2 linked regions of the Homo sapiens genome follow. The protein of the gene in region 1 purifies or fractionates together with the protein of each later gene. This does not show direct contact. Each region holds a gene or a part of one and is shown on either strand. Other genes may lie near its edges.

What was found.
Region 2: the proteins of MAP1B (region 1) and TKT purify together in Homo sapiens (affinity purification with mass spectrometry, with the first as the bait; one study listed by BioGRID). This does not show direct contact.

The regions. Positions count from the first base shown.
Region 1 is NC_000005.10:72,201,279-72,204,974, reverse strand, and holds part of MAP1B (microtubule-associated protein 1B), read right to left. Parts: intron 1,413-3,696; coding exon 1,174-1,412; intron 1-1,173. UniProt on the Homo sapiens protein: Facilitates tyrosination of alpha-tubulin in neuronal microtubules. Phosphorylated MAP1B is required for proper microtubule dynamics and plays a role in the cytoskeletal changes that accompany neuronal differentiation and neurite extension.
Region 2 is NC_000003.12:53,224,827-53,228,522, forward strand, and holds part of TKT (transketolase), read right to left. Parts: intron 3,534-3,696; coding exon 3,450-3,533; intron 3,324-3,449; coding exon 3,230-3,323; intron 2,053-3,229; coding exon 1,930-2,052; intron 1,106-1,929; coding exon 930-1,105; 3' UTR 1-929. UniProt on the Homo sapiens protein: Catalyzes the transfer of a two-carbon ketol group from a ketose donor to an aldose acceptor, via a covalent intermediate with the cofactor thiamine pyrophosphate.

The DNA.
Region 1 (3,696 bases):
AAAACTTTTCTATTTTCCTCAAGAAATGCAAAGGATTTTTCAATGTATATTTTCCAGGAACCAGAATAAAGCTGCAAAGAAAAGCTATTGTTTCTAAGGGAAACTGAAGGCTGGAACCAAAAAGCAATTAATCAGTTTCTCAGTTCTTTACTGTTAAGAGAAGTGCTTCCGTTAGGGTACAATTTTTTGTATTTCCTTTAACACAACTGGTAAGTTTTGCATAAAAGATATTGCATATTTAATCCAAGGATTTTATCGCGCACTTCAAAGCCCTCAAAAGCCCACTCATTGTGAGTAACTAACATTTTGTCCTGAGAACAAAGATCTGCACCTTTACTTTATGTGTGTGGTTGGGGATGGAGGTATGGGGTGGGTAAGTAATGTCCTGAATAGTATAAATTCCATCTAGCATTCAGTAGGGAGCCACTGGGTGCCTCTCATTAGATTTCATATGATTAAATAACAAGTAATTCTATATAATATGATACAAGCACAATTTACTAGGTAATTTTGTACAGAACCACAAATAAAACTTGATAAGCAAAGATCACAGCTGAATTAATAATAGCTGGTTCTAAGAATCATTTAAGGCCAGGAGTTCGAGACCAGCCTGGGCAACATAGGGAGACCCTGTCATTAAATAAATAAGGGATGGTTTGTGGTCAGGCATGATGTTTGGGAGTTGGGAGTGTCCTGTGAGGGACTATATTCAGCAATGCTCCTGCTGTGGAATTTCACATGGAGAGCTGTTTTTCTAAATGGCCATATTCCTAGCCGCAGTCTACTCATAAAACACAAAGGAAGAAAGGCAATTCCTCAGGAGCTCTCATATGGAAATATGACCGCTTTGATTCACACACACAAGACTCTTGGCATACTGGAGGAAGGGCAATTAATCTTAGGCCCATTTTGCAGATAAATGGTTTCTGCTTTAGTTAAGGTGTCTTTCCTCCAAGGCCGTGGTTGGTGGTGGTGCCAAGAATATTATTTCAGACTACCTACTGTGTGTTAAACTGACTTTGTTCTCAGGATATTTCGTGTGTGACAGACACAGGAGGCACCTCATGTGGATCCACGATCAGCCACATGAGGTGCCTCTTTAAACATGGTTCCTTCCCATTGCCTCTGGACACAGCTCAATCGGCAGTGCAGACACTGTCGAGGAGTTCTCACCTGCATGTTGCTGCCCCACTGAGCCTTTCCTTCCAACAAAGCGTCCAGGACAGCCCGGCTGGGCTCCTCAGCAGCAGGGTCATTCCCACTCACCACGTAGTAGGAAGACCGCACTCTCTTGAAAAATTCCACATCAACATTCTTACTATTGCTGTGGTTAGGAATGTAGCACAGGTCCAAATACACAGGGAGGCCTGGGGGCACAGCAGATGACTTGGTCGTCTTGGTAGTTCCTGGTCCTTGGGTAAATAAACAAAGACAAAGCAAGGTCATAGCAAGGTGAAGAGACCATACATCCAGCACATGTTCCCCACTCAATCACACCTTCCCTATTCAATCACAAGTAGGTCCTCTGAGACATGCAAAGTGGTGACAGCATTTCCATCTCCCTGGTAATCTGTCAAGGGCATTTACGCTAGCAATGTGACAAAACATAACATGGTTGTTTACCACCTCAATAGGAGAAATGAAGAATGGGATAGTTTCCCTTTGTGGACAACCAATATTAGGAAGCAAGAAGAGTTTGAAGGCCTTTCCCAAGATGGCACTAGATATAATACTCCTCCTAAAGAAGTTGTTAATGTGTTTCTTTATTTGATAAGTGATCTAAGAAGTAGATTTTAAAAGTCAAAAGAAAACGTCTGTATTTGGCAAAACATAGCTAAGTGATCTTAGTGCTCTATTTTAGGGTCTCATTGATAGCAATTTTGTCCACAGCTGGATATTATACCCTAACATTCTACCTAGCAAATAGTTTTGATCTTAACCCCATATGATTTCCAAGGCCCTCAGCACCTCCATCTCATTCATAAACTGATGAAACACCATATTCTCTCCTTAGCACAGTATTCTGAAAAGTGATACTTCTTTCCCTAGACAAGGCTGGATGCCAAACTTGGGCAAAGGAAGGTTCAGAAAGACTAGGCTTTCTCTAGCTAATCAGGACATATCAGACTGCAACCAAAACCCCCAGTCAAATCACAAAGGTCTGGGAAAACTAACTTGTTCCAGTTAGGAAGTTTAAAGCTTTTGAAATGTTAATAGAACTAGCATTTTGAGGCAGTGGTTCTTCAGCCTGACTATATAATCAGAATCACCTCGGATGCTTAATACTGACACCCAGGCCTCATTCTCTAGAGTCTGACTTAAGTGGGCTTGGGTTGGGGCCTGGAACTACTGTCTTTTAAAAGCACCCCAGGCGATTCTAATATGCAGCTGGTTTCATTGCTGTAAAGCCAATTAAAACACCAGCTAGATTTTACATGCTTAATCCTCTTTCTCCATAGGATATTTAAAGACTATCATCCCAGATTGAAAACCACCAGCTAATTCTATCAACTGTACAGTTTTATTTTTAGAGAGGTTAGGGAGTGGTGAGAATCAGCCAAAGTAATAATTGGATAAGCTAATTCATTCTATGAATAGATCAATAGTTTATTTTAATGAATCTGAGCCGAAAGCCCTCAAAATATCCAAAGAATTCCTAAAGAATTCTGACTTGTACTAGAAGTTTGTGAGTTACAGTTCTTCCAGTAATTAAACATGTCTGCCAATTTCGCCCTCTACTCTAAATCACTACCATCAACATCAAATGAATATTGCTCACAGAAGCACAAACTGACAGAACTGCCCAGGTTTGCTTTAAAAGTCAATTAGTACTGCAACTTTGCCTTTTTAGACATCTAAAAGCATCTCCAAAATAAATGAAAATTAACTCATTTTCACTTATTACTTTGCCTTTAAATTACCTCTTTAAATGTCCAAAAAAAGTTTTTTTAAAAATTGTGTGGGCTAGGATGTATATGTTCTGGCAAATTTGCAGTTGGTTTTATCTGTTTAAATGGATTTCATGTTTTCTCCTAAGTGCAGGTCAGTTGTCAACTCTTTCAGATGAAAGGGTTAATTATCTGGTGGTTTTTCATTCATTTTAAACATGAAAAAATTCCGATTATTTTCTATGTGCATGTAGAAAGGCCAAATGTGCTGAGAACTGAGCCTTAAAATTGATACTCCATATTGTTTAAAGTAAAAATTTGCAGTTTTAACAAATGTATCCTAAAGTGTACTTAATTGGAGAGCTCCAAAGATTACTCTATCAGATTTTCCCTAATAAATCAGGGCAATGTTATTTAAATTATGTTGTGCCTTACATGTTTGGGTCCATTTACATTACTTTGTGAATTGTGATCTAAAAATCTCTGAATAATTACCTAAAGCAAATAAAATGTATGAATGCCAATCCTTGTGATTGATGTGAAGCAACAAAATGAAGCAGTACTGCCATAGACCAGTTCCATCAAAAGCCCAGGTCATTGCTGAGAACCTGATAAATCTGAGAATCATGACCAAAAACATGAATGATCAAAAATCAGGGATACCTGCTCTTGCCAAGTGGCATTTCATTTGCTTATTTATTTATTTTTGAGAGACAGGGTCTTGCTCTGTCACCCAGGCTTGGCATGCAGTGATACATACAATTCTGGCTCACTGCAGCCTTGATCTCTTGGGCTGAAGTGATCCTCC
Region 2 (3,696 bases), on another chromosome or scaffold:
CGGGGCACCCAGCCCTCCTCCCCCAGCACTAGTTTGTTCTTGGCCAGTATAAGGTTTTGCACAGTTGACCTTATAAGCAGGGCTGACCCCAGCTGAGCCCGAGCAGCAGGGGGAGAAATCCACTGTGGTCAGCAGTGTGAGGGCAGTCACCTAGGAACAGCAGAGCAGGTCGGGGCTGGAGCTTGGGACTGCAGAATTCTGTGTGACATCAGAAGCTCCTGGGCCAGTTGTCACATGGAGTCCCAGGCCCCATTGGCAAGACCCAGAAATCTGCATTTTAACAAGTTGAGGGGGACAGTTCCACACTTGGGATTGAGGACCTCTCATGCCATCCTGAGGGTCCCTTTTCCCCCAGGACGAAGGCTGCCCTGTCTCTGCTTCTCTGAGATGCCTAGTTAAAAGGATATGACAAGGACGAGGGACAACAAGCAAGTGAACCTCCCTATCCCAGGAGACCTGACTGCAAGGCTGTGGGGACTTGGGGGAGGTGGGGCGGCCCTGAGAGTGCCTGGTCAGCTTCCAGACTGAGGCAGTTCCCCAGCCCGCTCAGGGCCAGGTGGACTGAGGTCACAATGAGGGATGTAGGTCTCAGCCTCTCAGCTAGAAGGCAGGTTGCAGTCAAATGTCACCTGGTGATGAATGGGAGGCAGCGATAGTTCTGGAGGTTGAGGGCAGTTGCAGGTGATTCCAAGGGGACTTGGGACACCCAGGTCCTGGCCCAGGACCAAGGACACCAGCCTCCCTAGCGCACCCTCCACGCTTCTTCCCCAGAACCTGCACTGGCTGCAAACACATCAAAAAAGAAAACATTTCAGGGCCAATTCATTTTTCTCAAAACATATATTTACCCCTCCTCTCAGTACATCTTTGAGCACCTTTCCCAGAATCTCAGGAATGTATAGACCCCCGCCCCACACTTCATACCCGCCCTAGGCCTTGGTGATGAGGCCCCTCACAGCTTGTGCAATGGCATCCCTGTCGATACCAAACATCTTCAGCAGCTCAGCCGGCTTCCCACTTCTTGGTACCCGGTTAACTGCCAGGTGGGTGACAGTGATGCCAGGCTCGCCCACTACTGCACTGGACACAGCCTCACCAATGCCACCTAGAAATGAAAGGAGGGGAGTCAGAAGACGAGGCCTCAGGGTGAGCAGTGGTGGGCCCAGCCCTCTGTCAGCCTTAGTCAAGGATGGAGGAGGCTGCATATGCACTGCCTTTCTCCACCTGTAGCCATGAGCCCATCACATAACTCATTGATTTTTTTTATTTTAAAGAGACAGACAGGTATCACCATGTTGCCCAGGCTGGTCTCCCAACTCCTGAGCTCAAGAAATCCGCTGTCCTCAGCCTCCCAAAGTGCTGGGATTGCAGGTGTGAGCCACCATGCACGGCCCAGAACTATTTTTATAAGCCCAAATATGGCCTCTAAATGTTTGTTTCAAACACCATTGTTGGTGACCAGCCAGCCACTGTCCATAGTCCAATTATCTACATTTGACCCCAGAGTCAAAGCCCATCTCTCCCACTGGGGCCTCCTACTTAGAGAGGCTGGTGTGTACTTAGGGAGCCTGCTGTGTGAAGGACTCACAAATACCAGAAATTCTGCATTGCTTCCCAAGCTGCACCATAGCTTCCACCCTACACTACCTCAGGGACGCCACCATCCACCATTTAGCAGCGAGGTTGGAATCCTCACCAGCTTCCTGGGCAGCAGGAGCTCCACAGAGCTCATCAGCAGCTGTGAGTTAGCTAGGTCCCCAGGCCAAGCCTGAGGCCTTTTAAGAGACCACGTCCCAGCTGCTCTGAGGGACAGCTCTGGGTGTTCTGGGCCACAGCTGCCCTCCTGGGGCTCAGATAGAAGAGGCACGTCCAACGCTCGGCTCTCTGGCCCTGTCCCTTGCCCAGCCTGCCTGCCCCAGGCCTCCTTACCTTCATAATAATGGTCCTCCACGGTGAGGATCCTGCCCTTGGTGGCACGAGCGCTGTCGAGAATGAGTTTTCTGTCCAGGGGCTTGATGGTGAAGGGGTCCAGCACGCGGATGTTGATCTTTTCTGTGAGGGAGAGCACACGGCGTGGCTGAGGGGAGGGCTGGGCACCACTATCTGCCCTGGTGGGGGCCTGGTGGGACATCCTGAGGGCTGCGTGTAGCTAAGAGCTCAGCCTGCGGGCCTGTCCCTGTCCCAGGGAGAACCACTTGCCACCTCGTTCCCATGGCTGAGCTCATGCTTGCCAACCCCTTGCACTGGGGCATCTGGTCCAGCTGTGTTGCCCGCAGTATCCAAGAACCCAGAGCGGAGCGTGCAGGCCCTGAGCGCCTTCCCTCATCCTCCCACAACCTTGAAGACAAAGGGAATGCGAGAGAAAACACCCCAGGTGTCTGGCCTGATGGAAGGTGAGGCTTGATGTGGTGACGTTGGGGAGCTGCAGCCCGCAGAGTGATCAGAGGCCCACGTGCGGCCCCAGCAGCAGAGGCACCTTCTCAGAAGGACAAACCCACGCTTGCCAGGCCCTGCTTAAAGCTCACCCCCCTGGGTCTCCCCCTGCCTGGGGATGGACTCCTCTGGCTCCTCCAGCCCCATCTTGCTCCTGCCTGACCCTCCTCCGGCCTCCCTTCACTCTCCTCTCTGCTAATCAATTCCTACCCACTCTGAAGCCACTTTCTGGAAGATGCCACACCTGCCCCCTCTTTCGTGCTAAAACATGACATCTGCTGTGTGATTCTATTGCAGGAGAGGCCAATGCCTGTCTCCCCTACAAACCACTAGCCAACACTGTGAGCTCGCAGTAATAATAATAGAATACCAAGTCACATGCATGTAACCCTCAGGAGAGCTCTGAGGGCAAGGGGCTAGTATCTCCATTTTACAGATAGGAAAACAGGCATGGTGACAGTGAATAACTTACTTCCTTAACTAGTGCCTGGCTGAGTGATTCCAGCCCAGCTGGCAGGCTCCAGGCCACTGATCTGGCCACCATGCTGGGGGGGTCTCGACTTTAGAGTCATAGGGTAGGGACTGTGGGCACTGCAGCCCCAGGACTTAGCAACATGCCAGACAGAACAAGTGCTCAAAGGATGGCTATAATTGCTATCATTATTTAATGAAATGAAATGCTTTCTCTCTAGCTGTGAGCTCTTCAAGAAAGAACAGAAAGAACGAAAGAAAGAACCCCAAGACCTAGCATGCAGTGGCCGCTCAGTTGATGACTTTGGAGGCCCCTTCTCCTCACCTTTCTTCAGCAGTTCGGCAGCGGCCAAGGCCTCGTGCAGGGTCACCCCAGCCCCGATAACGGTCACCTGGTCATCCTTGCTCTTCAGGACCACCTGGGGGTGACACAGAGGGTGAGTAAGGCTCAGGGCCCTGGGGCAGGGTGTGCCCTGACTGCTGGGAGTCACAGCAGGGAGGGTCCAGGCAGCTCTGTGGGCTCCTGGGGCATGCGAGGCACTGACCTTGGCTTGTCCGACCTGGAAGTCCTCATTGTTGTTATAGATGATGGCATTTTCTGGGCGGCTGGTCCGGATGAAGCAGATACCCTGAGACCGAAACAGATAAACTGAGGATACAGGATGTGGCACACCCAACCTCAGAGACGAGGTCTTTCTAGAGAGGCCATCCCTTCCCATGGGAGCGTTAGTTACTGCATCCTGGCTACTCCAGCAGGGAAAAGGGCCTTGCTTGCCCTCTGCCGCCCGCACC